2 separate regions of the Homo sapiens genome follow, and region 1 is linked to region 2. The links come from fine-mapping of genetic effects on gene expression. A gene starts in region 2. The other region holds a variant in brackets. All regions are shown on one strand. Distances are from middle to middle. Region 1 overlaps LOC105377205 (a long non-coding RNA gene). Region 2 holds the start of ALG12 (ALG12 alpha-1,6-mannosyltransferase).

Region 1 (15,744 bases), 80 kb after region 2:
ATGCATGAATGGCCCAGCTTCTCCAGGTCTTTGCCAGTGTTTGGTGGTGTTACTGCTTTTCATATGAGTCATTTGAATAGGTGTGATGTCTTGTTGCACTTTTAGTTTGCACCTCCATAATGGCTAAGGATGATGGACATCATGGTGTGTGTTTATTCTGTATATTCCCTTCATGGAAATGTCTCTTCATATCTTTTGCTGACTTTTCTATTGGATTGCTTATTTTTATTTCTTACTGTTGAGTTTTGAGAGCTTTTCTATATTCTACACGCCAGTCCTTTGTCAGACAGGGGGTGTGCAAATGCTTTTTCTCAGGCTGTAGCTTGTCTTTTCATCCTCTGAACAGGGTCTTTCACAGAGCAAAAGTTTTTAGTTTTAATGAGGTTCCCTTTATCAATATTTTATTTTATGGCTCACGCTTTTGGTATCAAACCTAAGAACTTTTTGCCTAGCCCAAGATCCCAAAGATTTTCTCCTATGTTTTTCCTAAAAGTTTTATAGTTTCACGTTTTAGATCTATGGTCAATTTTGGGTGTTTTTGTTTTCTTTCTTTTTTTTTTTGAGATAGAGTCATGTTCCATCGCCCAGGCTGGAGTGCAGTGGCGCGATCTCGGCCCACTGCAACCTCCGCCTCCTGGGATCAAGCAATTCTCCTGCCTCAGCCTCCTGAATAGCTGAGATTACAGGCACCTGCCACCATGCCTGGCTCATTTTTGTATTTTTAGTAGAGATGGGGTTTCACCATGTTGGCCAGGCTGGTCTTGAACTCCTGACCTCAAGTGATCCGCCCACCTCAGCCTCCCAAAGTGCTGGGATTACAGGTCTGAGCCACCATACTTGGGAAACTGGCACTTTTTCTATTTGAGCTTTCCAATCTGTGAAGATGGTTTATCTCTCCACTTATTTGGATCTTTGATTACTTTCATCAGCATTTCATAGTTTTTAGCATGTTCTATACATGTTTTCTTAAATTTACACCTAGCTGGCCGGGCGCGGTGGCTCATGCCTATAATCCTAGCACTCTGGGAGGCTGAGGTGGGTGGATCATTTGAGGTCAAGAGTTCAAGATCAGCCTGGCCAACATGGTGAAACCCCATCTCTACTAAAAATACAAAAATGAGCCAGGTGAGATATTGGGCACCTGTAATCCCAGCTACTCGGGAGGCTGAGGCAGGAGAATCTCTTCAACCCGGGAGGCGGAGGTTGCGGTGAGCAGAGATCGGGCCATTGCACTCCAGCCTGGGTGATAGAGTGAGACTCTGTCTCAAAAAAGAAGAAGAACAGGTAAAGGAAATTCTCCGAACAGAAAAGAAAAGACAACAGGCGGGGCGTGGTGGCTCACACCTGTAATCCCAGCACTTTGGGAGGCCGAGGTGGGTGGATCACCTGAGGTCAGGAGTTCAAGACCAGCCTTGGGCAACATGGCGAAACCTTGTCTCTACTAAAATACAAAAAATTAGCCGGGCATGGTGGCGTGCGTGTGCTTTTAATCCCAGGTACTTGGGAGGCTGAGGCAGGGAGAATTGTTTGAACCTGGGAGGTGGAGGGAGGTTGCAGTGATCTGAGATTGCACCATTGTACTCCAGCCTGGGCAACAGAGCGAGACTCTGTCTCCAAAAAAAAAAAAAAGAAATGACAACAAACGAATGTTCAGGGAGGAAAGAAGATGGTAGAATGAGTAAGCACCGGTAAAGACACTAGGTTGGCCTTCTCATAAGTTTTTAAAATCATATTGGATGGTTGAAGCAAAATTATAACACTGTCTGATGTGGCACTAAGTATATATAGAAAATAGACAATTCCATTATTTTTTAATTTATTTTTATGTTTATCATTATTCTTTTATTTATTTATTTTTGAGATGGAATCTCGCTGTGTCGCCCAGGCTGGAGTGCAATGGCTTGATCTCAGCTCACTGCAACCTCGCCTCCTAGGTTCAAGCAATTCTCCTGCCTCAGCCTCCCGGGTAGCTGGGATTACAGGCGCCCACCACCACACCTGGCTAATTTTTGTATTTTTAGTAGGGATGGGGTTTCACCATGTTGGCCAGGCTGGTCTCGAACTCCTGGTCTCATGTGATCCGCCTACCTCGGCCTCCCAAAGTGCTGGTATGAAGGCGTGAGCCACAGCGCCCAGCCCCCCTTTAGCTGTTCTTTAAGGGTAGTTCTGCTAGTGAGAAATTCTTTTCATGTGCCTTGGTCTGTGAATTTTTTTTATTTCTCTTTGTTCCCGAAGGACATTTTCACTCCACATAGAATCCGTGGCTGATAGTTCTTTCGGCACGTGAGAAACACCAGACCACTTGTTTCTGGCCTCGGTGGTTTCCAATACAAAGCTATGTTCTTCCCCATAGGCAATGTGTTGTTTCTCTGCCAGCTTTCAAGGGTTTTTTCTTTGTCATTAGTTCCCAGAAGTTTAATCACGATGTGTGCGGCATAGATTTCTTTGGATTTCTCTTATTTGGGTTTTCTGAGTTTCTTGACTTTAGAGGTTTATGTCTTTGGCCAAATTTGGGAAGATTTTGTTGTTCATTCTTCACATATTTTTTTCAGCTCCATGCTCTTTCTCCTCTCCATCTTAAACATCAATGACACAAAATTTAGATTTTTATTTATTTATTTATTTTCGAGACAGAGTCTTGCTCTGTCACCTAGACTGGAGTGCAGTGGTGCAATCTCGGCTCACTGCAACCTCTGCCTCCTGGGTTCAAGTGAGTCTCCTGCCTCAGCCTCCCAAGTAGTTGGGATTACAGGCGCCTGCCACCATGCCTGGCTAATTTTTGTATTTTTAGTAGAGATGGGGTTTTGCCATGTTGATCAGGCTGGTCTCGAACTCCTGACCTCAGGTGATCTGCCCACCTTGGCCTCCCAGAGTGCTGGGATTAGAGGCAAGAGCCACTGTGCCCAGCTAATTTTTGTATTTTTAGTAGAGACAGGGTTTCACCATGTTGGCCAGGCTGGTCTCCAACTCCTGACCTCGGGTGATCTGCCCTCCTCAGCTTCCCAAAGTGCTGGGATTATAGGTGTGAGCCACCACGCCTGGCCTAGATTTTTAAAAATAGTCCCACAGGTCCCTGAGGCTATGTTCCATCAGTTTTTTTCAGTCTATTTTCCATCTTTTTTTCAGATTGGGTTACTTCTATTGTTCTGTCTTCCAGCTCATGGATTCTTTCCTCTGTCATATTCATGCTGCTATTGAGCCCATTCAGTGAGTTTTTTAGTTTGGTTTATTGTACTTTTCGACACTACAATTTCCATCTGGTTCTTTTTTCTTTTCTTTTCTTTCTTTATTTCTGAGACAGAGTCTCTCTCTGTTACCCAGGCTGGGGTACAGCGGTGCGATCATGACTCACTGCAGCCTCAGCCTCCCAGGCTCAAGCGATTCTGTTGCCTCAGCCGCCTACCCTCATTCCCCACACCCCGATTTCATTAAAAAAAAAAAACCAAAAACTTTTTTTCTCTATTTTTCAGTTGTTTCAAGATAGTTTGTAAATGCTTGTTGAAGCATTTTTGTGAGGGCTGCTTTACAATCATTTTCGGATAATCCGATACCTGATTTATCTCGGTGTTGGCATCGTTATTTGTCTTTTCTTAGTCAAGTTATGAGTCTCCCGGCTCCTGGTGTGATGCATGATTGTGGAATCGTCATCTGGACAGTTTGTATATCAGCAGCAGACTCTGAATCCTACTTAAACCTGCTATTTCAGCAGGCAGTCACCCTGTTGAGGTGCAGCACATCCTGGCCTACTTTTGTGGGTTGTGGTTCCTACAAGAATTGAGTTTATCTACTAGATCTGCTATTTAGGCGTCTACGTAATTAGGCTGCTGCTGCCGGTGGGGATAGAGGCGCCTCTCCAGGCTTCTCCGAGCTGTTAGGTGGGGAGTGGGCGGACCTGGTGCCAGCAAGTTCCGGCTCCGCCTCTGCAGATTCCCCTATGGGAGGGCTGTGGGGCTTCCCCCAGCTACTGGGGAGGCGTGGGGAGAGGCGAGGGGAGGAGAGGAGGCCCTAGGCCTGGACCCCCTTGCACCACTTTGGGTCAGGAGATACTGGGCCTGGACTGCCTTCCACTGCCGGGCGGGGATGGGAGGCTCCAGGCGGCCGCGCTTTTTCCAGTCCGCGGTCCCCACCGGCCGGTTCCCCTCTTCCCCCCACTTCGAGGCCTGCAATTGTCTGCTGTACTGGCTCCCAGTGCTGAAAGGTGTGTGTAGCTGGAGGAGCACGGAGAGATGAGTCCGTTCCATCTCCTCTTGAGCTAGAAGTCTCTGGTTTTACTTTTAATTTTTATTTCTGTACTTTTTTTTTTTTTTTTGAGATGGCGTCTCGCTCTGTCGCCCAGGCTGGAGGGCAGTGGCGCGATCTCGGCTCACTGCAAGCTCCGCCTCCCGCGTTCACGCCATTCTCCTGCCTCAGCTTCCCGAGTAGCTGGGACTACAGGCGCCCGCCACCACGCCCGGCTAATTTTTTTCTATTTTTTTTTTAGTAGAGACGGGGTTTCACCGTGTTAGCCAGGATGGTCTCGATCTCCTGACCTCGTGATCCGCCCGCCTCGGCCTCCCAAAGTGCTGGGATTACAGGCGTGAGCCACCGCGCCCGGCCTATTTATGTAATTATTTATTCTATGGATTTTAAAATAGCCTCATTGATAAAGAATTCACAGACATACCATGCAGTTTACTGTATACTTAAAATGGACAGGCCAGGTGCAGTGGCCCCTGCCTATAATCTCAGCACTTTGGGAGGCTGAGGAGAGCGAAGTGCTTGAGTCCAGGAGTTTGAGACCAGCCTGGGCAACAAAGCGAGACCCTGTCTCTACAAAAAAATTAAAAAAAAAAAAAAAAAAACAACTTAGCCGGGTGTGGTGGTGCGCATCCTTAGTCCCAGCTACTCAGGAGGCTGATATGGGAGGATCCCTTGAGCCCAGGAGTTCAAGGTTGCAGTGAGCTGTGATTACAGCAGCTGTGATTTACTCCAGCCTGGGTACCAGAGCAAGTCCCCGTCTCAAAAACAAGTTCAATGAAATGTTTCTAGTGTATTCACAGGGCTGTGCGGTCCTAACCATAGTCAGTTTTAGAACCTGTTCATCATCCCCAAAAGAAACCTCATACCCGTTAGCACTCACTCCGTTTCCCCTCCCTGAGACCCCGGCAACCTATTTGCTTATTCTGGGCATTTCATGTAAACGGAATCATTACAATATGTGATCTTTTGTGGCTGCGTCATGTTTTCAAGGGTTCTTCATGATGCAGCACATGTCAATACTTGGTTTTTACTGCCAAATTATATGCCATCTATGTATATGCCAGATTTATCCATTCATGACCTGTTTTCACTTTTCAGCTATTATGAGAAATACCACTGCGATGAGTCTTCACATACAAGTGTGTATGTGGACACATATTTTCATTTCTTGGGGATATGCCTCAGAGTGGACTTGCTGGGACCTATGGACGCTCTGTGTTCAGCATTTTGAAGCATTGCCCGACCGTTTTCTAAAGCAGGTGCACCATTTGACGGTCCCACCAGCAGCATGAGAGAGTTCCAGTGTCTCCACATCCTCGTCAACACTCACTACCTGACTTTTTGGGTCTAGCTCTCCAGGTGGGTGTGCAGTAGGATGTCATTGTGGTTTTGATTGGCAGTTCCCTGAGAGCTAATGATGATCATCTTTCGATGTGCTTATTGGCTATTTGTAGTTGTCTATTCAAGTCCTTTGTCCATTTTAAAATCAGGTTCTAGCTGAGCGCAGTGGCTCACACCTGTAATACTAGCACTTTGGGAGGCCGAGACGGGCGGATCATCTGAGGTCAGAGGTTCGAGATCAGCCTGGCCAACATGGCGAAACCCCGTCTCTACTAAAAATACAGAAATTAGCCAGGCGTGATGGTGTGCGCCTGTAATCCCAGCTACTTGGGAGGCTGAGGCAGGAGAAACACTTGAAGCCAGGAGGCAGAGGTTGCAGTGAGCCAAGATCGCGCCGCAGCACTCCAGCCTGGGCGACAGAGTGAGACTCCGTCTCAAAAAAAAAAAAAAATCAGGTTCTGTGTTTTTTGTTGTGGAGTTGAGGACTGTGGCTTTTATTCCCAGGGAGATGGGAAGCCAGTGGAAGGTGTTAAACGCAGGAGATGCTGTCACTTGGGCTGCTGTAGAGAGGAAGAGGCAGAGGGGTACAAGGGTGAAGCAGAGAGGTGGGTCAGGCTACTGGGATAATCCAGGTGAGAGGTGTTGAGGGAACAGAGGAGGCGGTGACACAGGGCTGGCTCTGGACTTATTTTGAAAGGGGAGCCGACAGGCTTTGCCAGCGGGTCAGACATGAGCAGTGCAGGAGTGCCTCTCACCTAGGAAGCCCGGAGTTGCCTTAGCTGAGAAAGTGGATTCATGTCCTATGGCTGCTATGACAAAGCGCCACAGCCTGGGGGGCTGAGAATGGCAGCAACTCACTCTCCCACAGCTCTGGAGGTCGGAAGCCCGAAGTCCAGGCATCAGCAGGACTGTGTTCCCTCTGAAACCCATAAAGAGGGGTCTTTCCTGCCTCTTTCGGCTTCTGGTGGCCGTCAATACTTTGCATTCCTTGGCTTGTGGCCACATTACTCTGCTCTGTCTCCATTGTCACATAGCTGTCTTTGCTCTGTGTGTCTGTGTCCCAATTTCTCTTCTTATAAGAATACCAGGTGCTTGCTTCAGCAGCACATACACTAAAATTGGAATGATACAGAGAAGGTTAGCAGATTGTGTAATTTAGAAAGGGATACCAGTCATTAGATTAGGGCCCAACTCAATGACCTCATCCTAACTTAATTATTATTATTATTATTATTTATTCTTTTTTTTCTTATGTCTTTTTTGTTGTTTTTTTTTTTGAGATGGAGTCTTGCTCTGTCGCCCAGGCTGGAGTGCAGTGGCACGATCTCAGCTCACTGCAAGCTCCACCTCCTGGGTTCACGCCATTCTCCTGCCTAAGCCTCCCAAGTATCTGGGACTACAGGCACCCATCACCACGCCTGGCTATATTTGTGTATTTTTAGTACAGACAGGTTTTCACCGTGTTAGCCAGGATGGTCTCCATCTGCTGACCTCGTGATCTGCCTGCCTTGGCCTCCCAAAGTGCTGGGATTACAGGCTTGAGCCACTACACCCGGCCTATTATTTATTCTTATTTATTTATTTATTTTTTGCCACTACACCCGGCCTATTATTTATTCTTATTTATTTATTTATTTTTTGAGATGGAGTCTTACTCTATTGCCCAGGCTGGAGTGCAGTGGCGCAATCTCTGCTCATTGCAACCTCCGCCTCCCAGGTTCAAGTGATACCCCTGCCTCAGCCTTGTGAGTAGCTAGGACTACAGGCATGCGCCACCATGCCCAGCTAATTTTT[G/A]TATTTTTAGTAGAGTCGGGGTTTCACCACGTTGGTCAGGCTGGTCTCAAACTCCTGACCTCAGGTGATCCGCCCGCCTCAGCCTCCCAAAGTGCTGGGATTACAGGCGTGAGCCACTGCACCTGGCCTCATCCTAACTTTATATCTGCAAAGACCCTATTTCCAAATTAGCTCATATTCCCAGGTACTGTGCTTAGGACTTCACCATACCTTTTGCAGGGGGGACACAATTCAACCCATAACCGAGGAAGGAGACAGCAGAGAAGTTTGGGGATGAAGACCAAAAGCTGAGTGCCAGATACGTTGAGTTCGAGATGCCTACAGGACATCCTGGAGGAGAGGCTGAGAAGGCAGCTAGATGTTGGAGCTGTCAAAGCATACTTTTTAAAAAGTTAGAAACAGGGCCAGGCGCGGTGGCTCACGCGTGTAATCCCAGCACTTTGGCAGGCCGAGGTGGGCGGATCACGAGGTCAGGAGATCGAGACCATCCTGGCTAACATGGTGAAACCCCTTCTCTACTAAAAATACAAAAAAAAAAAAAAAAATTAGCCGGGCGTGGTGGTGGGTGCCTGTAGTCCCAGCTACTTGGGAGGCTGAGGCAGGAGAATGGCATGAACCTGGGAGGTGGAGTTTGCTGTGAGCTGAGATCGCGCCACTGCACTCCAGCCTGGGTGACAGAGCGAGACTCCGTCTTAAAAAAAAAAAAAGTTAAAAACATGACTCATACAACTCTAAAGTGAAGACGTGTCAAAGATTTATTTTAATCATTAATGAGGAAACCAGCATGATGGTGAGGCTGGTTCAAAAGATTGGAGAGAAGGAAGTATTTGTAGTGACTTAAAAAAGTTTGAGTAATTCTGCTTATTTAGATTTTTAAAAAAACTGGTTAATGTTCTACAGGGCCATAAACCGCAACCTTTTCTTTTTTTCTTTTCTTTTTTTTTTGAGATGGAGTCTTGTTCTGTCGCCCGGGCTGGAGTGCAATAGCTTGATCTCAGCTCACTGCAACCTCCGCCTCCCAGGTTCAAGCAATTCTCCTGCCTCAGCCTCCTGAGTAGCTGGGATTACAGGCGCCCACCACCACGCCCGGCTGATTTTTGTATTTTTAGTAGAGACAAGGGTTCACCATGTTGGCCAGGCTGGTCTCGAACTCCTGACCTCAGGTGATCCTCCCACCTTGGCCTCCCAAAGTGCTGGGATTACAGGCGTGAGCCACTGCGCCCAGTCAAACTGCAACCTTTTTTACTGTAATCTTTTCCACTGGACAGAAATAATTTCTATCACTCACTACTGGGCAAAATTTATTTGCATTGCTGTCAGAGAGGAATAATTTTACTTAGCCATCTATCTTCAACAAATTAAAGTCTACCCTTGCTGAGTTGTAAAATATCGTAATCAATAGTATATAGCAAGTTAAGCAGGCGCACACTCCAGAGGATCCGAAAATCTGCCTGGCAGGCTTGCTCAGGAACATAGCCTGCCACTGAATGGACACACTCATTTTGGGGTGTCTAATCCTTAATCTGGGACATTTTTATTAGCTCCCTCTTGGGATGATAAATAATCTCCGAAGGTTATTCTTGACCACAGAAAGCTAGTCTTGCATTCTGACCTAATTCATCTACACAGGTGCTGCAAGAAGTGGTAATTACCACGCACGAGTGTCCTTGTTAGGTGACACATGTAAACCAGATGGCGTTATGCAATGACCAAGCCGGAAAATCAACTTCTGTCTGGACGTGTCATCATAAGGAATGTAGGACTGAGCCTACATCACACCTGAGATTTTTTGTTTTTTAATTTCTCTTATTTGCTCTTCTGTTCCTAGGCCAGGAAGCCGAACCAAATCCACCTCCCTCAGGTGTGCCCGCGGGACCTGTGTGTGTGCAAGTTTCTATCTTCCAGAAGGTTCCAGTGTCTGCCATGGCTCTTGGCCTGCCAGGAAGTATCCTTCTTACTACTTGTGAGGCTGAGGCTTTGTGTGCCAGAGTACAGGTGCCCGGCCAGTATGGGTCTGAGGGTTGTGTGGGCATTGGTTCAGCACACAAGCCACAACCCTTGTTCCTTAAAGGTGGGCGTGTTGTGGAAGCACAGGAAAGTTATTCTCAAATATGACACCCATGTAAGGCCTGGGCTCCACTATTAATTTGTCTGATTATATCCTGGTGACAAGGAGGACAAATTTCTACTGCAACAATGCAAATTACTACGTTTTTATTAAAAGTAAATGTCAGTAAAACTATTTTTCCTGAATTCTGAAGTGAGAAAAACACCATTTAAAGAACGTTTTAATGTTTGTGAAAGGATAGTCTCCTAAAGTAGATTGTTGCAGATACCGGGTAAAAATAAAAATTAAATAAATTAAAGGTGAGATAGATCAAAGAAGAAGGGTTTTGTCTTATTCCTGCCAGAAACAGAATATCAGAAACAACATGAGCATCCTCCTCCTTGCCTTTTCTTGGGCTGTGCTTTCAGCCTGCAGATATAACCATTCTGGAGAGCAGTGATGCCCCCAGAACCGCATTTTTGGCTGGTGCAAAATGGGGGGCAGTGGTTGTGTCTGGGGCCAAGTTTCTGTCCTGTATAGCCTAGAGATGGTTATGTAGCGGGGGACTGAGCTACTAAGTGAAGGCATAGATAGTTATGTAGAAACAGAGGAGGGTAGAATCAACTCCATGCTAGATTGTAACTGGAGGTACAGGTATCAGTATGAACTCAAGGTTTGCTAAGAGGTATCAGAAAAGATATGGGTGTGTGTGTGTGTGTGTGTGTGTGTGTGTGTGTGTGTGTGTGTGTGTTTGTACATACTTATTTCCTAGCTCTGTCTGCTGAGTGTAAATGGAATCATATTCTGTAATCTTTTGAGATTTCTTTCTTCCATTTAAAATTATGTGTTTGAGATTTGGCCGTGTTGGTGGTGGAATTCATTCATTTCTGTTGCTGTGTGCTATTCCATTGCGTGGATACACCTCACTTTGTCCATTTTACCGTCCTTTGATATTTAAGATTTCTCCCAGTATTTGCTATTAAAAACAGCGTTAAAATAAAAAAAAAAAAACACCAAAAACAGTGTTGCTCTGAACATTCATGCACATGCTTCCTGATGAACAAGTTTCTTTTTTTCTTTTCTTTTTTTTTTTTTTTTTTTAGATGGAGTCTTGCTCTGTTGCCCAGGCTGGAGTGCAGTGGCGCAATCTCTGCTCACTGCAAACTCTGCCTCCTGGGTTCACACCATTCTCCTGCCTCAGCCTCCTGGCTAATTTTTTGTATTTTTAGTAGAGATGGGGTTTCACCGTGTTAGCCAGGATGGTCTCAATCTCCTGACCTCATGATCTGCCTGCCTCAGCCTCCCAAACTGCTGGGATTACAGGCGTGAGCCACGGCGCCCGGCCCTGATGAACAGGTTTCTTAGGCACACACCCAGGCACGGAATGCACCTAGGAATACAAATTGACTTAACCCTACAGCCGGGAATGGGTATGCACACTGGGGGAGCTTGCATCTTCTCAAAGTGGCCACAACAACTTCTCCCATACAGCATGCTTCTCTTAAAATGTGATGATAACACATGTCCCAAGAGGTGGGGTCTGTATTCTCCCTAACTCTTGAATCTGGACAGGCTTGTCCCTATGGCAGAAGTGATGCGTGTGACTTCAGAAGCTAGGATGTGAAAAGTGATACAGGTCCCACCTGCTTCTCTTGAGACCCTTGCTCCTGCAGCATGGCTACTATTCCATGAGGATGTTCCCAAGGCCCTCAGCCCAGAGCCTGGATCAAGGTCCCAGCCACGTGAGTGCACCATCTTGGAAGTGGCTCCTCCAGCCCCTAGTGGAGGTGCCCCAGATAAGGATGCAGGAAGTAGTCTAGTTGTACCTGCTGAATCCTGCCCAAATAGCAGATGTGTGAACAAAAGGAATGACTGCTGTTTTGAGCTACAAAGTTTTGGGGGTGGTTTGTTTTGCAGCAAGAGGTAACTGATAAACATGTCCACTTTCACTGGGTAACGCCTTATGACCAAGATATTTACCAAATAATTGTCCCACTCGACATTCTGGCCAGCAGGGTATTGCTCTGCCATCTTGCCATCGCTGAGTATTGCCACATATGAACGCTGGTGCCTATTTGGTGTGTATTTTGTTTGCATTTCCAAATTTACTAGTAAGATGATTGGCCTTTCCATGTTCTCTGCAAGAAGCCTGATTATGACATGGGTTTCTTTGTTGATTTGGGTTTTGTGCATCATTTTGTTGGCTTGTTTGTCTCTTTCTAATGGATCTGAAGGGGTTCTCTATATATTCTAAATACTAATCATCTGCAAGGTGTACATATCTTTTAGTTTTTCATTCTTCAGTCTCTTTATGGTGCCTTTTGAGGAACAAACATATGATAATTTCCATCCTTTCATTTACGAAATGGAGTCTTGCTCTGTCACTCAGGCTGGAGTGCAGTGGGGCAATCTTGCCTCACTGCAACCTCAGCCTCCTGGGTTCAAGTGATTCTCCTGCCTCAGCCTCCTGAGTAGCTGGGATTACAGGCACGTGCCCCCATGCCTGGCTAATTTTTCTATTTTTAGTAGAGATGGGGTTTCACTATGTTGGTCAGGTCTTGAACTCCTGACCTCAGGTGATGCACCTGCCTCGGTCTCCCAAAGTGTTGGGATTACAGGCATGAGCCACTGTGCCTGGCCCCATCGTTTTATTTTTCATCTGTTATTTTTCAGGTGAATTTCTTGTAAGAATATTTCACCATATTTATATTCCATTCAGAGAGGTTGTCTTTTAATAGATGCATTTAATCCAATCACATTCCTCTGATTACTCAAATGTTTGAACTTAGTTCTGCCAACTCATATTATGTTCTGTATTTATCATGATTTTATCTTTTACTCATTCCTGTTTTTTTTTTGTTGTTGCTGCTGTCGTTTTTCATTTCGCTTTTTCCTCAGCTGTTCTGAAAGTGGTAAATTCTTTTTCCACCATTCTTGTGGAAACTTTCTGATAGTTAAAACTTTTTTTTTTTGTTTTTTTGAGATGGAGTTTTGCTCTTGTTGCCCAGGCTGGAGTGCAATGGCACCATCTCAGCTCACTGTAACCTCCACCTCCCAGTTTCAACCAATTCTCCTGCCTCAGCCTCCCAAGTAGTGGGATTACAGGCATGCGCCGCCACGCCCGGCTAATTTTTTTTTTTTTGTATTTTTAGTAGAGATGGGGTTTCTCCATGTTGATCAGGCTGGTCTTGAACTCCCGACCTCAGGTAGTCTGCCCGCCTCGGCCTCCCAAAGTGCTGGGATTACAGGTGTGAGCCACCATGCCCAGCTAAAATTTTTAACCTTTTTTTCTATCGATTCTAAAATCCTCGAACCAAACAATACAAGAGCTTTCGTGCACTTTCACTTCCTTCTGCGCCCCGCCTTACCATGTGTCATGTTGAGTTCATCCGGGATTTCTCTCAGGTTGATTTTCTTTTAACGGACCAGACTGATTTACTTGCTGGCATCCACGTCTTACTCTTGGGTCCACTTTTCACTTTGTTAAGGTATTTCTTCTAGTACTTTTACAGACTGCGTGTGTGGTAAATGTGGATGTTAACCGGCGGTGAAGACACCTTTATTTTGCTGTCTCACTGGAACGCTAGTTTCACTGTGTATGAGTTACGGTTCAATTCTCTTAGTATTTTGGCAACCCCTCCTCTGTAGGATGAGTCTGAATTCTAAAGAAGATCCTCTCCGAAGGCCTTCCTGAGTATCCCTGTGACATGCCTACGTTCGAGGCTTTGTTCTTCACTCCTCTGAGCATCACCTGCATTGTCTGAGAGGCCACTGTCCCCGTCTCCTCTTCTGTGAAGGGTTTCGTGTCTTTTCATCTTCTCTTTCATGAGACTGTGTCTTACTTTTGCTCTGTGTTGTGGAGAACCTCCAGCTTGGTTTCCATCTGGCTTCCCTGAGGTGGAGGAGAGAAGCGTTCGGGCTCAGCTTGCTTGTTTGGCCACAGGTAAACAGACATCTGTAGAATGGAGGTGACACGAAGCTCCTGGGTCTGGTGCAGAAGAGGTCAGGGCCCCAGTGGCCTGTACCCCCTAAGCTCAAGGGTGTGTCTGCAGGGAGTCCTAGATCAGGACTGACCACTGGGGCCTTGGCTGGGGTCCTACCTGCCCTTGAGTCGTCACGTCACAACCCACACACTGGGTGCCATGGGCATGAGGACTGGCCAGGAAAAGGCCTGTGGGGCCTGGCCCCTATCAGGGACACTTGGGCGAACAAGGCCACCCCACTCCCAATAAGGTGTTTGGTGCAGTGCCCCGAGCAGTGGGGCCGCTCGGCTGCCCCCGTGGGGACGGTCTGTCCCAGGGTGGACAGCTGCTCTTCCTGAGGGGCCTGCCTGGATGCCACAGGCTGTGCTGCTGGAACCCAGGGATTCCACAGCACCATCGTCCTGATCACAAATTCTCAAGGAAACCAAGGAGCTCCTGCCTCACCTTAAAACATTTGGGATTTAATCTTGGAGTGAAAATTGTTATGACCCCACTGAATTTTAGAGTTTACACAAAAGGCCAAAGTGAAGGCAGAGACTCAGGCCTCTCAACTCCCACCCGCAGGGGCCTTTTCTTGCAACCTTAAAGGGCATCTGCTTCACGCCGGCCTCGGCAGGGCCCTCACACTGGCAGGACTACTTGCACACCGGGCCTGACACTCACTAGGGGAGGCTCCCCAGCCCGGCTGCACCACCCACCTCTACCTAGTCGCGTGTCCCGGCCAGTGCCCTTTCCACTCCCACCCAGTGCCCCCGCAGGGCCCCCTCTGTCCTCTTAGGGACCTCCACTCCCGGACCAATAGCCTCCTGCCTCAGGGCCCCCCACTCATGGGCCAATCGCCCCCTGCCTCAGGCCTCCCCCCACTCGTGGGCCAATCGCCCCCTGCCTCAGGCCCCCACCAACTCGTGGGCCAATCGCCCCCTGCCTCAGGGCCCCCCATTCCTGGGCCAATGGCCTTCTGCCTCAGGGACTCCCACTCTCAGCTGGTCCCCCCCGCCTCAGGGACCCCCACTCCTGGCCGTTCCCCCGTCAGGGCCCCCGACTGGCGGCTGCTCCCCCATCCTGCCTCGGGGCCCCCCACTCCCGGGCCAATGTCCTTCTGCCTCAGGTACCCCCACTCCCGGCCCGTCCCCCCGCCTGTGGGCCCCCCACTCCAGGCCGGTGGTAGCCCCTGCCTCAGAGCCGCCCACTCCTGGGCCATCTCCTGCCTCAGCGACCCCACTCCTGGGCCAATGCCCTTCTGCCTCAGGGACCCCCACTCCCAGCCGGTACCCCCCTGCTTCAAAGCCCCCGACTCCCGGCTGCTCCCCACCTGCCTCGGGGCCCCCCACTCCTAGGCCTACGTCCCCCTGCCTCAGGGCCCCTCATTCTCCATCCTCCTGACCCCCTCAGGGACCTTCTGGCCCGGTCCTCCCTAACTCAAGGGCCCCCACTCTCCATCCTCCCGACCCCCCACTCCCAGCCCGGTCCCCGCCGCCTCAGGGCCCCCTTTGGCCCCCGCTCCTCGCGGCGCCCCCTCCCCCGCGCGCGGCCGAGGCAGCGGAGTCCGCGCGTCATGGCGGCGGCGGGCGGGGCGCGTCTCGCACGCAGCGCGCCGGGCGGAGCGCTCGCCGCATTGTTTGCTTCGCTGGGGAGCGAGCGAGCGACCCGGCCCTGGAGTCCGAGCCAGCCCCGCGTCCCGCGCCCGCCGCCCGCCGCCCGCTCCCGCGCCCGCGCCCGCGCCCGCCGGCCGGGCCCCCCGAGCCGGGCCTCCAGCTGGGCCCCGAGCCCGAGCCCGCGCCGCGCGAGCCGCTGCCCGAGAGTCCGCGGCCGCCGCTGCCGGGCCCGGAGCCGCCGCGGCCGAGAGGGGCCCGCGCCCAGGAGCGGCGGCGGGGCCCGGCCTGCGCGGCCGTTGGCGGAGGAGCCGCGGGCGCCATTAGCACCGCCTCGGCCGCGCCGGCCCCCGCGCCCGCCCGCTTGCCGGGCTCCCGCGGCCGCGGCGCCCCGAAGGTGAGTGGGCGGGGGCCTGGCCGGGGAGGCCTCCCCGCCGCCTCGCGGGCCGCCCGGCCGCCGCCGCCGCCTCGGCCCGGCCTCTCGGGGTTGTGGTGCCGACGCCATGTTTGGCGGCGGCGGCGGCGGCGGCGGCTCCGCATTGTCTGCGGGCCGGGAGCCCGGGATGCCGGGGAGGCCGGGCGGGGAGACCGGGGAGGTCGGGCCGGGCGGCCGGGGAGACGGGCGGGAAGACGGGGAGGCCGGGCGGGGAGACCGGGTAGGTCAGGCCGGGGAGTCGAGGGAGGCCGAGTCGGGCTGTGGGTCTCGGCGGCCTGGGCCGCGGGCGCCTGCCCGGAGTCCGCGCTCGAG
Region 2 (14,819 bases):
GAGGGGCGTAAGAATCGGAGAGGCCGGTCCTGACTATCGATCCACGGGTCTGTCTGCCCAGAATAGCCTAGGGGCTGCCGGCCAACCACACACTCACGTCCGAGACACTCAGAGTTTTCCTACATATCAGTGACAACCAGGGAGAAAACGTCCTTTGGAAAGATGCCACTCATAACGGCCTGCAGGGATTTGACAGATGCTGCTCTCTGGGCCGGTGCGGGGCCCACACGGCACCTCCAGGACCTGTGCACTGCATGGCCCATCACAACTCAAGGTCGGGGTGGACCTTGAACTAGAGAGAAAGGTGAGTAGCTTCTCCCTTCTGAGGGCTGTTACGGGACAGGAAGTGCCCGACAACCTCTGCCTCTATCCTCTGATGTTTTCATTCATCCTTCTGGGCCCTCGAAGCTTCCTTGGACATCTGGGGTTAAAGATCAACAGGCCCCTGTTCCCATCTAGGCAGGCAGCTCCAGCAAGGGGCTCTTGTCATCCCGCCTCAACCCCGGGGCCAGCCCAGGCGTAGCCCGTACCTGTGCAGATGCTGTGGGTCTCGTTCCGGAGCGAGCTGAAGTAGCCGTCCATGCAGTCAGTGCACAGCGGGCCCTGGTACCCCATGTGGCACCGGCAGGACCCGTCGCCCTGTCTGCTCCCATCTCCGCTGCAGTGGCCATTCCCGCTGCAGGGCCTCTGGGATCCGCCCTGGCATGCTTTAGGGGACACAAAACCATGCTCAGAGCACACCTGGTGGTGACCGGTGCGGTGTTCTCACACGGAGAGAACGCATGGCACCCAAACCCTGTACGATTCTGAGGACGTACATGAGCCTGAAGGCTTGGAGTGGGTGTTTGGGGAAACTGATTTCCTGGGTCTGCAGGGCTGGCGGTGGATCGCCTGAGTGGAGCAAGCCACAGGCTCCTGGGCTTCACTATGGCCACGTGCTGCATGATGACGTTTAGGTCAACAAGGGACCCTGCATAGCACAGCTGTCCCCTAAGATGATACTAAAGCTGAGCGGCTCTTATTGCCTAGTGACATCACAATGTGCCTCATTACCTGTTCTATGTTTAGATGTGTTCAGGTGACACATTCTTACCACGTGCCAAATGGCCCACAGTACTCAGGACCCTCACGAGCCGTGCAGGTGTGCGGCCTGGGAGCAGCAGGGCCTGCCAGGCAGCCTAGGTGCAGAGCGGCTGCACCATCTAGGCGTGTGGCGTGTGGCGTGTGGAGTGCACGCTGTGATGTTTGCACCATGACAAAGTCGCCTAATGACGCATTTCTCAGAACACGCCTGGTCGTTACACATGACTGCACTTTGTGTGGCTTTGGGCAGCCTCAGCTGAAACATGGTGATAGGGACACTGACGCGTCAGGCGCGGGGACTGCAGGGAGAGTGGGAACATTAGCTGCGGCCTCCAGTGCATGCCAGGGACAGCAGCAGGGGCTGGCAGAAGGCTGATGGTGGGCGGGTGGGGGGTCTGAACCTGAAACTTCTGCTACCTGATCTCGCTTGACCACGAGATTGGCTTTTATAAACAGTAAACCGTGACTTCAGTTTCAATGCACACTTCTTCACAGAAGAGCCCTGTCCCTTGGCACCCATTGGGGCTCAAGGCCATGTGCCCAGCCTGATAGACACCCAGTGCCCTGCGCTCTCTGCAATAGCAGCCACAGAAGTTGTGGTGTGGTCACCTCTGTGCACACAGGGAGAAGCACCTGGACAGGTCAGTCAGGACAGACTCTCAGGTGAGTGGACTCAGCTGTGAACAACCTGAGTCTGTGAACCCCTGAATTAACAGCACAGCTGGGAAGACATACTCAGAGTTTTACGCTAAAGCATGAGGTTAGTGGTGAGGCTGCAGCCAGACGGTGCGAAGTGCTCCAAGCTGTGTTGGGGATGGGGGAGGCAGCCATCCGGCAGGGTCCCAGACCCTACAGAAAGCTGATGCACCCCAGGTCCCCTCTGTGCTTTTACCTCCCAAGAATCATGAGAAGAAGAGGGGAAGTGACGTAGGAGATGGGATTTCCCTGAGGAGAAACGCACCGAGACAGTCGGGACCGTAGGTTCCTGGAGAGCAGCACACTTTCAGTGTCTTCACACAAAACCACTCGAATAAGTCAGGATATTCGCTCTTCCTGAGGATGGAGGAAAACATTCACTGAATCCCAGCAGACACGGTTCTTTAAAACAAACATGCAGCTGAACGTAACATATGCTCTGGAGTATTGTAAGGTCCAGGAAACAAGAGTCTAGGTGTGGACAGAATCTTCTCCTTAATTTCCTGGTTTTGATCGCTGACTCTGGTGATAAAAAACGGTAATGCAGGGGTAAGGTGGGTGCGAGGCAGGTGGGAGCTCCCTACTGTTCCTGTACCTTTCTAAGTCTGAGGTTATTTCAAATTCTAAGTTGGAAAATAAAAAGTATCTTCTAAGAGGTTTTAAGGCACTCACAGCTGCAGCCACCAGGCCTCCAGGTGCTCCTCCTGCGCCTCTAGCATCTGATTGCATTCGAAGTCGCTGCTCTCGCACAGCCCCTCCAGGATCTCCAGCAGGCGAATCTCGCTGAAACACAGGCCCACACCGGCCCACCGTCAGCGCCTCCAAGGCAGTGAAGAAAAATCCGAACCAATACGCCAACCTGGGTGCAGGGGCCGGGGAGCCAGGACTCCGGGCACAGAGAATAAGGGGACCCCACTGTCAGGGGAAGCCAGGAGCGGTTCCCACAAGTGGGGCTGGTGTTCCAGTTTACATTTTGAAAAGCCACTGTCTGTTGAGGGGGTAGGGACCAGAGCAGAAGCTGGAAGGCCAGAGAGGGGCCAGCCATTAGTCCTCAGGGAGAAGCCGAGGTGACTCGGACGGGTGACTGGTGCCTCGGGGGCTGTTCTGTCTCCCTGTCATTAACACAGGCACCAAAGGCAGGACACGACTTCCCAGGACAGCGCCAGGCCAAGACCCACAGGGGTGCTCCAGGGCACCCACCTGGACTCGTACTTGGACAGCGTCTTTTCCTCCCAAGCCGTGTTCCCGCCGCCAAAGTTCTTCTTTGCGGTGTCCACCATCCCCTGCGAGGAGACAGTGCCCATAGTGCTTGGTACCACCTGACCCGGGTCCAGGGTGGGGGCGAGCCCAGGTCGAGGGTGAGGGGACTCCAGGCCCACGGTGGCGTCGACCCTGGTTCCACGGTGGGGGTGGATCCGGGTCAAGGGTGAGGGGGACTCCAGGACCACGGTGGAGGGACTCTGGATCGACGGTGAGGGGGATCCCGAATCCAGGGTGAGGGGGACCCCGGATCCAGGGTGAGGGCGACCCTGGGCCCAAGGTGGGGCGACCCCGGATGCAGGGTGAGGGGGACCCCGGGCCCAAGGTTGACGACCCCGCCCGGCCCCTTCCCACCTGGTTAAACTTGTCCACCAGCCCCCGGCACCGGTGGCAGGGCGTCGGCTTCTTGGCGGCCTCCGGCGCGGGCGGCAGCAGCAGCAGAAGCGGCAGGAGCCCCAGCGCGGCCCGGCGCGGCAGGCGCATGGCGGGTAGCGCTGCGGGAAGACGCAGCCGGAGCTCCAGGTCCTGCGGCCGTGCTGCTCCGGCCTCCCGGCCGCCCACCCGCTCCCAGCCGCGCCGGCCTGTCCCCCAGGCTACTTGACGGCGCCGGCGAGGCCCCGCCCCACCCGCCAGCCCCGCGCCGCTATTGGTTGATGGGACCCGCCCCGGCCTGATATGGCCCAATCCGAGTTCGCCACGAGAGGTGACCAATGGGAAGGCCCCGGATCAGCGGCCGCCAGGAGTCCGGGGGCGGGGCGTGCAGGTCCGACCCCGCCTCCCGCTCCCCGCCCCTCGCGCGCAGCCCGCGGCGGCCATCTTTACTCAGGGCACAGAGGGTCTCTGCGGCCGTAGCGGCCGGGGCTGCGGTAGCCACTTTAGATTTGGGCAAGGACTTTAGATTCGGGCTCTGTTCTGTTTCCGCCGTCCTGCTTCCTGCCGAGGCTGGCCCAGGCAGCCGCGCTTCGAAGGACGCCGCCGGGAGCTGCGGAGGTCAGTGCGCGCTGCCGCGACCGGGGCCTTCAGGCGGGCGCGCGGCGAGACCAGGGAGGAGGCGGGCGAGGGCGCGACCCGAGCTGGCGCTGGCGCTGGATTCCTGAGGCCTCACCGCGCATGTCCACGCGTCACAGCCCCGTGCTCCTTACCTGGGGCTGCACCCCTCACTTGGGGCCGGGCTCCTCACCTGGGGCTGGACCTGTCACCTGGGGGCCAGACCTCTCACCCGGGGGCCGGACCTCTCATCCGGGGGCCCGACCTCTCACCTGGGGCTGGACCTCTCACCTGGGGCCGGGCTCCTCACCTGGGGCCGGACCTCCCACCTGGGGGATGGGTTTTTCACCTGGGGGCTGGGGATCTGGGGTCCACTTAGGGTCTCTGGGGGCTGGGGATCTGCATTTCTACAGGCGCTTGAGGTGATGAACACTCGCTCATGTTCAGGAACCCCTGGTTTAAATTAGGGGAAATAAAACGTGCAGCGTCTGGATTTCAGAGAACTCCTGCCTGTGGAAGGAAGGAGTGCAGATAACACTGCACATTTAAAAAAAAAAAAAGTAACATCTGATTTGACCAGTTTCTTTTCTGTTTTTTTGAGACGGAGTCTCACTTTGTCGCCCAGGCTGGAGTGCAGTGGCGCGATCTCAGCTCACTGCAAGCTCCGCCTTCCAGGTTCCTGTGATTCTGCTGCCTCAGCCTCCTAAGTTGGGATTACAGGCACCCACCACCAGGTCCGGCTAATTTTTGTATTTTTAGTAGAGACGGGGTTTCACCATGTTGGCCAGGCTGGTCTCGAAGTCCTGACCTCAAGCGATCTGCCTGCCTCAGCCTCCCAAAGTGCTAGGGTTACAGGCGTGAGCCACCATGCTTAGCCTGATTTGATCAATTTCGGTAGAGGCCTTAAAATCTGGATTGATGGGGACAAGAGGGTCTTTGCAGGTCATTCCCTAATCTGAGATGCCATTGTTCTGTAAACCACCATTTTAAAGTGTCATGGCCTGGGCCCGTTTTAACCTGTGGGTGCTCTCGAAGCACCCGTCACTTAGATTAGCCACAGCTGCTGCCCAGCTGCCCAGCAGAGTGGGCTAGTGCAGGACAGTGTCCGTTCACCCTCGCCTGGTGGGGGGTTCGTCGTGGTTTTCGTGCTTGCTGGTGTTGACTTGGTCTTCCCGTGCTCCTGGCAGAGAATCCAGACTCACCCTTGGTCTTCTCATGCCCTCGAAAGTGAGCTGTGCTGGTCATCAGCAGAAGGCACACCTTGTTGGGTCCGAGGAGGTGCTGGGGGCCCGCCAGGAGTGTCAGAGTCAGCACGTAATGTTTTCACCCCACAGCTGAACTCTTCCTTGCTGGGGAACTCCCCTGGGTGGAGAGGTGTGGAGTGGGGTTGTGGGGGACTGCCAAGCAGCACTTGCTGTGTGCACCTCCCACATCTTGGCACGTAGATGCTCCCCGTTCCGTTTTATTTTTTATTTTTGTAGAAATGGGGTCTCATGATGTAGCCCAAGTTGGTCTTGAACTCCGGGCCTCAAGCAGTACCCCCCATGTCAGCTTCCTGAGTAGCTGGGATTATTTTTGTGGAGATGGGGTCTGGCTCTGTAGCCCAGGTTGGTCTTGAACTCCTGAGTAGCTGGAATTACAGGCGTGAGCCAACACATCCGGCTTGCTTCCTATTTCTTTTTTTTTGAGACGGAGTCTGGCTCTGTTGTCCAGGCTGGAGTACAGTGGTGCGATCTTGGCTTGCTGCAACCTCTGCCTCCCGAGTTCAAGCAATTCTCCTCCTCTGCCTTCCAAGTAGTTGGGATTACAGGCGCACACCACCATGCCCAGCTAATTTTTGTATTTTTAGTAGAGATGAGGTTTCACCATGCTGGCTAGGCTGGTCTTGAATTCCTGACCTTGTGATCCACCCACCTCAGCCTCCCAAAGTGCTGGGATTACAGGCATGAGCCACCACGCCCGGCCGTTGGAACATATTTTTATTTAATTTAATTAATTTATTTATTTATTTTTGAGATGGAGTCTTGCTCTGTCGCCCAGGCAGGAGTGCAGTGGCGCGATCTCGGCTCACTGCAAGCTCCACCTCCTGGGTTCACACCATTCTCCTGCCTCAGCCTCCCAAGTAGCTGGGACTACTCGCCACCACTCCAGCTAATTTTTTTGTATTTTTAGTAGAGACGGGGTTTTACCATGTTGGCCAAGCTGGTCTCGATCTCTTGACCTTGTGATCCACCCGCCTCAGCCTCCCAAAGTGCTGGGATTACAGGAATGAGCCACCGCTCCCGGCTGCTGGAATTTTTAATAAGCACGTGAGCTGGTGTGATGAGAACCCCATGTAGGAGTTTTTACCGATTTCTTCTTCGGCAGCCTTGTTGAGTGCCTACTGTGCGGCAGGCTTTGCTGATTCAGCAGTGAGTCCACCAAGCAAGCCCTGCCCGCAGGATGAGTCCAGCAGGGGAGGTGGCAGCGAGGCAGCCTTCAGGCCACAGCGGCTGGCCTCTGTCCTTGGTGCTGAGGCTGCGCTGGTGGGAAAAATCATCCAGCATCAAAAACCCCCCACCGTCAAAAAGCTTGTGTCTTAGCAAGTGGGAGACAGCTGAGTGGGCCCTCCCTCAGTTAGTGATTCCTAACCTAGTCCTTCGACCTTTCTCTTTGTTTGATACCAAGTTTATTTTTTTAAATTTTTTTATTATCTATTTATTTATTTCTGAGACGGAGTCACGCTCTGTGGCCCAGACTGGATTTCAGTGGTGTGATCTCGGCTCACTGCGGCCTCTGCCTCCTGGGCTCAAGCGATTCTCCTGCCTTAGCCTCCCGAGTAGCTGGGATTATAGGCGTGCACTACCATGCCCAGCTAATTTTTGTATTTTTAGTAGAGACAGGGTTTCACCATGTTGGCCAGGATGGTCTTGATCTGCTGACCTCGTGATCCACCCACCTCAGCCTCCCGAAGAGCTGGGATTATGGGAATGAGCCACCGCACCTGGCCCTCAGCCTCCCAAAGAGCTGGGATTACGGGAATGAGCGACCGCGCCCGGCCCCAGGTTTTTATATTTGGCAAAGGAGAGAACTGCATACCATTTCAGTCGTAAAATTATTAAAGCTTTCTTTTTTCTTTCTCTCCACCCCCTGCCCACCATATCAAATAGGGTTCTCCTTCCTTCTAATCTACAGATTTTCCTTTGGTTGCCATCTTTGTATACTTCTTAACTCTCCGTTTGATCAAAAGATAGTTTTGGCTGGGCATGGTGGCCCACGCCTGTAATCCCAATACTTCAGGAGGCCAAGGTAGGAAGATGGCTTGAAGCCAGGAATTCCATACCAGCCTGGGCTACAAAGCAAGACCCTGTCTTTACAAAAAATAAGAAAACTTAGCTGAGTGTGGTGACCCACACCTGTAGCTGCGGCTACTCAGGAGGCTCAGGCAAAAGGATCCCAGGAGTTTGAGGCTGCAGTGAGCCATGATCACTCCACTGCACTCCAGCTTGGGTGACAGAGTAAGACGCTGTCTCTTAAAAAAAATTTTTAAAGTAGTTTTAATAAATGGTAAGCCCTGGGGTTCTCTCTCCCTTTGCTTCTGGCCCTTCTGGTTTGGATTGAATAAAATCAAATCTGTTTTAAAAGAAGCCAGAAACGTGAAGAGTTTGCCCCCTCCCCTCCCTTGGTCTCTCACGTGTAGCAGCTGGACATGTTGCTGGCCTCTCAGGAAGCTCCGTGCCACGGGCCCCTGAGGTTGTCCTGTTAGTGTTTGGGGGACCCATTGCCAGTCTTCCCAGGCTCACATGCAGGCTCATGGCCAGTGTGGTGCCACCTTTGGGAAAGCCGGCCATGGCTTCTCCCAGCCCCCAGGGTGGGGTTCGGCGCAGGCGTCCACAGCCCCATCCCACCATTCCTGGGAGCGGGGGCTTTGCTGGCCACTCGAGCCCTGTGTCCCAGCAGCTGTACTACGTTCAGTTTCTTGCCCTCCCGGGGCCCCTGTCCACCACTCTCCAGCTTGGTGCCTCCCACCCAGCTAACTGGCACCCCTCAGCCTCCCATTCCGTCTTCTTCAGCCGGTTCCCTCGGGGCCAAGCCTGGGTTTTGCTGACTCTCCTGCCAGATTTAGACTGGGGGGCAGGGGCCATTTACCACCCTCCATTGCCCTCGTGGCCCAGGCCTGGTCAGACTCAGGGTTCTGCGACTGAGATCCTTCTGCCTAGAAAAACATTCACAGAGCTGGAAGTGTCAGATCACTGGTTACAGTATGAAAGATTCTCAAGTGTGATTTTTTCTCCAAACTTTCCATCTTGATGCGTTTTCAGATTTGTAGTAGTGCGACTAAGACAGTAGTTCAGAGAATTCTGCTAACCCTTTACCCGGATCTCCCAAACGTGAGCGCAAGCGTGACTTTCGAACCTCAGGAATCTGTTTCCACTTTTCCAGCATGCGTGGAGTGGCAGTGCTAACGGCTGGTGTCTCGCACTGTTGGCCTGTGAAGGTACGTGAAGCTGAAAGCCTGGAATGGCTGGAAAGGGGTCATCAGGCAGGCGGCCCCTGCTGCTGGGGCTGCTGGTGGCCGTAGCCACTGTCCACCTGGTCATCTGTCCCTACACCAAAGTGGAGGAGAGCTTCAACCTGCAGGCCACACATGACCTGCTCTACCACTGGCAAGACCTGGAGCAGGTGAGGGGCCCCTGCTGTCTTTGGGGAAAACCTCATGTTACCAGCTGGCAGGGCCCCGGTGCACTGACCTGCCCTTCTCCTCGCAGTACGACCATCTTGAGTTCCCCGGAGTCGTCCCCAGGACGTTCCTCGGGCCAGTGGTGATCGCAGTGTTCTCCAGCCCCGCGGTTTACGTGCTTTCGCTGTTAGAAATGTCCAAGTTTTACTCTCAGCTAATAGGTAAGGGGGTCTTCAACAAAGGAGGAGGGAGTGAGGGACTGTGGTGTCATCGGGTGACCTCAGCGAGGCCGCGGTCCCTCCTGCCCAGGAACGCTGTCTGTTAGTCTTGCCTGCCCTCGATCACCGTGGCATGGCGGCTCAGAGCAGGTGCTCAGGTCAGGCCTAAGACGTCTGAGTCAGCCCCTCTGTGCCTCCACACTCTTGACTGTGAAATTAGGGGTGACGGCAGGTACAAGAGAAATGCCGACTGCCTGTGAGGCAGCTCTCGCCACCTGAGCCTGCTGCTCCCGCCTCACCTGGCAAGCCCCCATGGGGTCAACAGCCTTTATTCCTGCAGAAGCAGCACCATTTGCCTTGGGGAATGTTACAAACAGAAACCTCACATTCCCAGAGGCCACCACTGCAGGGCCTGTGTGCAAATCCTGGGTCTTTCTCTGTGCCCACATGAGGACTTTAAAAAAAAAAAATTAGAACGTTTTGTACATATTGTTCTAAAAACCGATTTTTTTTTCTTTTTTGAGACAGGGCCTTGCTGTGTCACCTAGGCTGAAGTGCAGTGGTGCAATCATAGCTCACTACAGCTTTGAACTCCTGGGCTCAAGTGATTGTCCCACCTCAGCCTCCCACAGTGCTGGGATTACAGGCATGAGCCACCACGCCCAGTCACACAACCTGAGTTTTTGAAGTCAGCAATCACCACTTTTTTATTTCAGTACGCTTTTATTGCTTTTAATACCCAGACATGCTTCCAGCGAGTCAGTCCAGCTTGTGTGGAGAGCTTTAAGAAGTAGCACGTTCCTGGGGAAGGAGCAGTTCTGCTTCTTGAAGGGGCAGATTGGGAACGGAAACCCACCATGGCACGGGGACAGCTGGACAAGCCGTGCATGTCCTGTAGAGGCATCAGGAAGCCCCAAATGGGGAGGAGTTGGGGGGCCACGAGCCAGGGAAAGGAAGTCCACAGGCAATTCCGGGGCTGAGTCCACATTCCCTTGGAAGCTTCTGCTTATTCCAGGGTTGGCAGCAAGAGGTTGGGAGGTTGGGCAGAGCTGGGTGGACTCCAGCTGGACAGAACCTTGGAGGGCTGCAGCTTCAGCTGGTGAACGGGAGCCCACCCTGTGTCCTTCCTGATCCCACTAAGGTGACCTGGAATTGCTAGTGCCCCCCCCAGCCCCTGCCACAGGCCAAAATCCTTCCTCTCTGGATGAAGAGCATGTCATCCTGGGGCCGAGGGTGATCCCGGGGCCGAGGGTGATCCTGGGGCCAGGCTGATCCCGGGGCCGAGGGTGATCCCGGGGCCGAGGGTGATCCCGGGGCCAGGCTGATCCCGCGGCCGAGGCTGATCCCGGGGCCGAGGGTGATCCCGTGGCCGAGGCTGATCCCGGGGCCGAGGGTGATCCCGCAGCCGAGGCTGATCGTGAGGCCGAGGCTACCCTTGTTGGGCACGGGGTTGAGATTGTTGGGCATTTGGGAAGATGGAAAACCAAGAGAAGAGACGCAGGGGATGGACCTGATGGGGAAAAGGGGAAGCGGGGCTTTGCTGGGGTCTGTGAATTGTTTAAAAGCCCGGGGGAAATTCCAGCACCAAAAATACAGCAGCTGGAGCCAGACCCACTTGTGAGTATCAGTGAAAAATGTCCTATTAAGACATTCAGACTGGGCATGGTGGCTCACGCCTGTAATCCCAGCACTTTGGGAGGCCGAGGCGGGGGGATCACCTGAGGTCAGGAGTTTGAGACCATCCTGGCCAACATGGGAAACCTTGTCTCTACTAAAAATACAAAAATTAGCCGGGCGTGTTGGCATGCGCCTATAATCCCAGCTACTCCGGAGGCTGAGGTAGGAGAATTGCTTGAACCCGGAAGGCAGAGGTTGCAGTGAGCCGAGATTATGCCACTGCACTCCAGCCTGAGCAACAGAGGGAAACTCTGTCCTTAAAAAGAAAAAAAAAAAGACATTTGCAGTCCGAATCCAGCAATCAGTGAAAAGAAAATGCCTGGTATGCACATGGGGTATTCTGGGAACAGCAGGTCCAGCCCTCAGACATCCGTGGCCCCCTTGGCAGTGCCTGGGTATCTCTGCCCATTGGCCCCCACAGCTGCCTGGACCCAGTTGCTTCTCACATGGCTTCGAAGTTCCTCTGGCCTTCTGGAAAGGTAGCAAGAGCCACCCAGAAGTTCATTTTTCTTCCTGTTTTCAGTCTCTTGCCAGCGGCTGACAGGCCGGTCCACGGTGAGGATGTGTGGTCGGCTGGGTACTGTCCTGGGCACACCTGCCCCCTCACCACCTCCTCATCAGACCACCAGCCCAGAGGTGGCTCCTGCTGTCAAATGGGGAGAGGGGTCCTGACCCCCTTCCTGCCTGGGAGCCTGTGTTCCTGCCACATCCCACCTCCTCATGGCTGCTGGTTAGAGCAAGGTCTGAGCCCGGCCTTTGCAAACATTTCCCCTGGAGATGCCACAGCCCGGTGGGGTCTCTGGTTTAGTGTAGGGCTCAGCTCGTGGCACCCCCAAGTTGTGTGTCCTCCCTCATGCTTCAGAGAGCAGCCCCCGCAAGGGTCCTCAGTTCCCGACAGGAGCGCAGGGGGCCTGGGTCCAGTCGTCTGTTTTCAACATGGAGACGATGCCCTCAAGGCTGCTTTGCCTGACGTAGCCGTCAGCTGGCATTGCAGCAGCATAGAAAACTCCATATAGAAAGATCTGTGTAGAAGGACCCACGTAGGGGGCCCCACTGGATACTCCTCCACTGCAGGCTCAGGTGCTGTCACTGTCTTTGTTTAGTTAGAGGAGTGCTTGGACTCGGCGTGATTTTTGGACTCTGGACGTTACAAAAGGAAGTGAGACGGCACTTCGGGGCCATGGTGGCCACCATGTTCTGCTGGGTGACGGCCATGCAGTTCCACCTGATGTTCTACTGCACGCGGACACTGCCCAATGTGCTGGCCCTGCCTGTAGGTACGTAGCTGCCGGCCGGGCCTGCACACCCATGGTGCCGGGCAGGGGCTCCCCTGAGTCGGGCTGTGCAGCTGATGGCAGTGCCTCCCCCGTAATGGCCATTCCCCACTGGGTTCCTCAGGATGGTCTGTGACCTGAAACCAGGCTCTTTGTTTTCCATGCTGGGTTGGGACACACTTCCTGGCCAACAGCATAGGTGCGGGGAGCGGCTCTGAGCAGTTTCTTTTCTGGGATATTTGTGTGGCTTTTATAATAGGAAAAGGAATCACCCTTCACTTCCCCGGGTGTTTTCTGGGCCGGGTGGGCCCTGTGTCTTGACGAGCACCCTCCCGCACTGTCTTGCAGTCCTGCTGGCCCTCGCGGCCTGGCTGCGGCACGAGTGGGCCCGCTTCATCTGGCTGTCAGCCTTCGCCATCATCGTGTTCAGGGTGGAGCTGTGCCTGTTCCTGGGCCTCCTGCTGCTGCTGGCCTTGGGCAACCGAAAGGTTTCTGTAGTCAGAGCCCTTCGCCACGCCGTCCCGGCAGGGATCCTCTGTTTAGGTAAGTCAGTCACTGTGGGATGCTTCTAACTGGATTTTGTTTTGCCTTGTTTTACAAAGGTCAAGAGAAATTTGGGAGGTTTTCATCCCCATGAAATAAAATGACCCTAAATTTAGCAGTGTTGAAAACATTTCAATCCTAAGCCCCCTGCCCGGGGATCTCCAGGGGGACCCACCGTGCGCCTTAGGAGCCCCTGTTCACTGGTCTGTCCCTTGTCCTTGGGCTGGGGGAGGCCACAAGAGTGGAGGGCGGCTTGTCCCTGCGCCAGGCGGTGGTTCTGGGCAGTGGTGTCCTCGACACAGTTGGTGTCTTTTTTCTTTTTTTGTTTTAGAGATAGTCTTGCTCTGTCACCCAGGATGGAGTGCAGTGGCATGATCATGGCCCACTGCAACCTTGAACTCCTAGGCTCCAGCAATCTTCCCACCCTGCCCAACCTCTTTTATATGAAAGCAGCTTGTAGTTTCTGTAGTGATGGGGGCTGCATTGTGGCGGGATGTTTACTGATGGCTGTGTTTGCGACTAAGAAACTCTATTTTATTTTGTCAGGACTGACGGTTGCTGTGGACTCTTATTTTTGGCGGCAGCTCACTTGGCCGGAAGGAAAGGTGCTTTGGTACAACACTGTCCTGAACAAAAGCTCCAACTGGGGGGTATCCTTCAGTGTCCGTGCAGGAGGGCGATGGGTGGGACCTGCAGCCACATCTCCTGGGCCTCCATGGGCAGTGGAAGCAGCTGCTTCTCCCTTCTCTGCAGCGTGGCTGCAGGGTCAGGATGGAGCCCCTCCCTCCCACTTGCTCCTGGGAAATGCTGGCCATGGGAGGTGAGGTCCTGGCTGCCCTCTCTCAGCCAGGAAACAGCCTGAGGGCTGGAAACAGCCCTGCCCCAGATTACCCCAGCCTCTCCTCTGCTCCTCGGACAATCTGCTTTTTTTTTTTTTTTTTTGAGACTGAGTCTCGCTCTGTCGCCCAGGCTGGAGTACAGTGGTATGATCTTGGCTCACTGCAACCTCCACCTCCCTGGTTCAAGCAATTCTCCTGCCTCAGCCTCATGAGTAGCTGGGACTATAGGCGCACGCCACCACACCTGGCTAATTTTTGTATTTTTAGTAGAGGTGGGGTTTTACCATGTTGGTCAGGCTGATCTTGAACTCTTGAACTCAGGTGATCCACCTGCCTTGGCCTCCCAAAGTGCTGGGATTACAGGTGTGAGCCACCACGCCCGGCCCGGACAATCTGCATTTAAAAAGTGCTTTCTTAGGAATTATGTCAAACATACACGCATAGATGGAACAGCATAACGAATCCCAACATGTGTGTCACCCGTGACCGTCTGTTTTTTGTTTTTTGGTTTTTTTTTTTTTTTTTTTTGAGACAGAGTCTCACTCTGTCGCCAGGTTGGAGTACAGTGGCATGATCTCGGCTCACTGCAACCTCCAACTCCCTGGTTCAAGTGATTCTCCTGCCTCAGCCTCCTGAGTAGCTGGGATTACAGGCACATGCCACCATGCCCAGCTAATTTTTGTATTTGTAGTAGAGACAGGGTTTCACCATGTTGGCCAGGATGGTCTCGATCTCTTTACCTCGTGATCTACCCACCTTGGCCTCCCGAAGTGCTGGGATTACAGACATGAGCCACTGCGCCCGGCCGACCATCTGTTTTTAACAGTGAAGAAAAGGGTACAGAGACCGAACGTCCTGTGGCCCTTGCTGCCTTGGTCCTGCCTGGAGGGGGCCCGACGCCCAAGTGGTATGTGTGCACCCGAGCTGTGGCCTGGGCTCTGTCTTTTAGGAGGGGCCTGAGGCCTGAGTGGTGTCTGTGCACACGAGCCGTGGTCCAGGCTGCATCTCTCAGCACAACTGTCTTCAAGCGTCTTCTCCACCTTGACCCTGCCACCTAGCCCACGGGCTCATGCGTGGACAGGTGCGTGGCCTCCTTAACCCAGCCCGCAGACCTCCCCGCTGCTGTGGTACTTCTACTCAGCCCTGCCCCGCGGCCTGGGCTGCAGCCTGCTCTTCATCCCCCTGGGCTTGGTAGACAGAAGGACGCACGCGCCGACGGTGCTGGCACTGGGCTTCATGGCACTCTACTCCCTCCTGCCACACAAGGAGCTACGCTTCATCATCTATGCCTTCCCCATGCTCAACATCACGGCTGCCAGAGGCTGCTCCTACCTGTGAGTGCTCTTTTTGTGACATGCATTTTTATAGTTTCATTGGAAACAGGTTCACTGATTTACTGTTGGGGGGATGTATGTGTGTGTTTAATTTTTGAAACAGGGTCTTGCTCTGTCGCCCAGCTGGAGTGGGGCTTACTGCACCCCTCAACTCCTAGGGGGTTAAGCCATCCTCCTGCCTCCTCCTCTGGAAGTGCTGGGATTGCAGGTGTGAGCCACCAGGGCTGTTTTTTAAGATAAACACAGGG

The links.
Region 1: its variant is fine-mapped to the expression of ALG12 in T cells (TOPMed, PIP above 0.99).

The regions. Positions count from the first base shown.
Region 1 is chr22:49,827,146-49,842,889 of GRCh38, reverse strand. LOC105377205 (a long non-coding RNA gene) reads left to right here. Exons shown (of 5, transcript NR_188597.1): 3 at 5,338-5,382; 4 at 5,496-5,598; 5 at 9,203-10,441. It overlaps BRD1 (bromodomain containing 1), which reads left to right and starts at 15,017. Exons shown (of 13, transcript NM_001304808.3): 1 at 15,017-15,393. RefSeq lists silencers at 3,805-3,854, 14,883-14,952, 15,683-15,744. The variant G/A (reference allele first, on the strand shown) is at 7,375.
Region 2 is chr22:49,907,473-49,922,291 of GRCh38, reverse strand. It overlaps ALG12 (ALG12 alpha-1,6-mannosyltransferase), which reads left to right and starts at 3,854. Exons shown (of 10, transcript NM_024105.4): 1 at 3,854-4,029; 2 at 8,449-8,688; 3 at 8,775-8,907; 4 at 11,685-11,858; 5 at 12,204-12,398; 6 at 12,945-13,048; 7 at 14,348-14,571. The coding sequence starts at 8,527. CRELD2 (CRELD disulfide isomerase 2) reads right to left here and starts at 3,658. Exons shown (of 10, transcript NM_024324.5): 1 at 3,394-3,658; 2 at 2,980-3,062; 3 at 2,452-2,562; 4 at 2,045-2,136; 5 at 531-707. The coding sequence starts at 3,522. RefSeq lists silencers at 3,455-3,954, 4,065-4,264.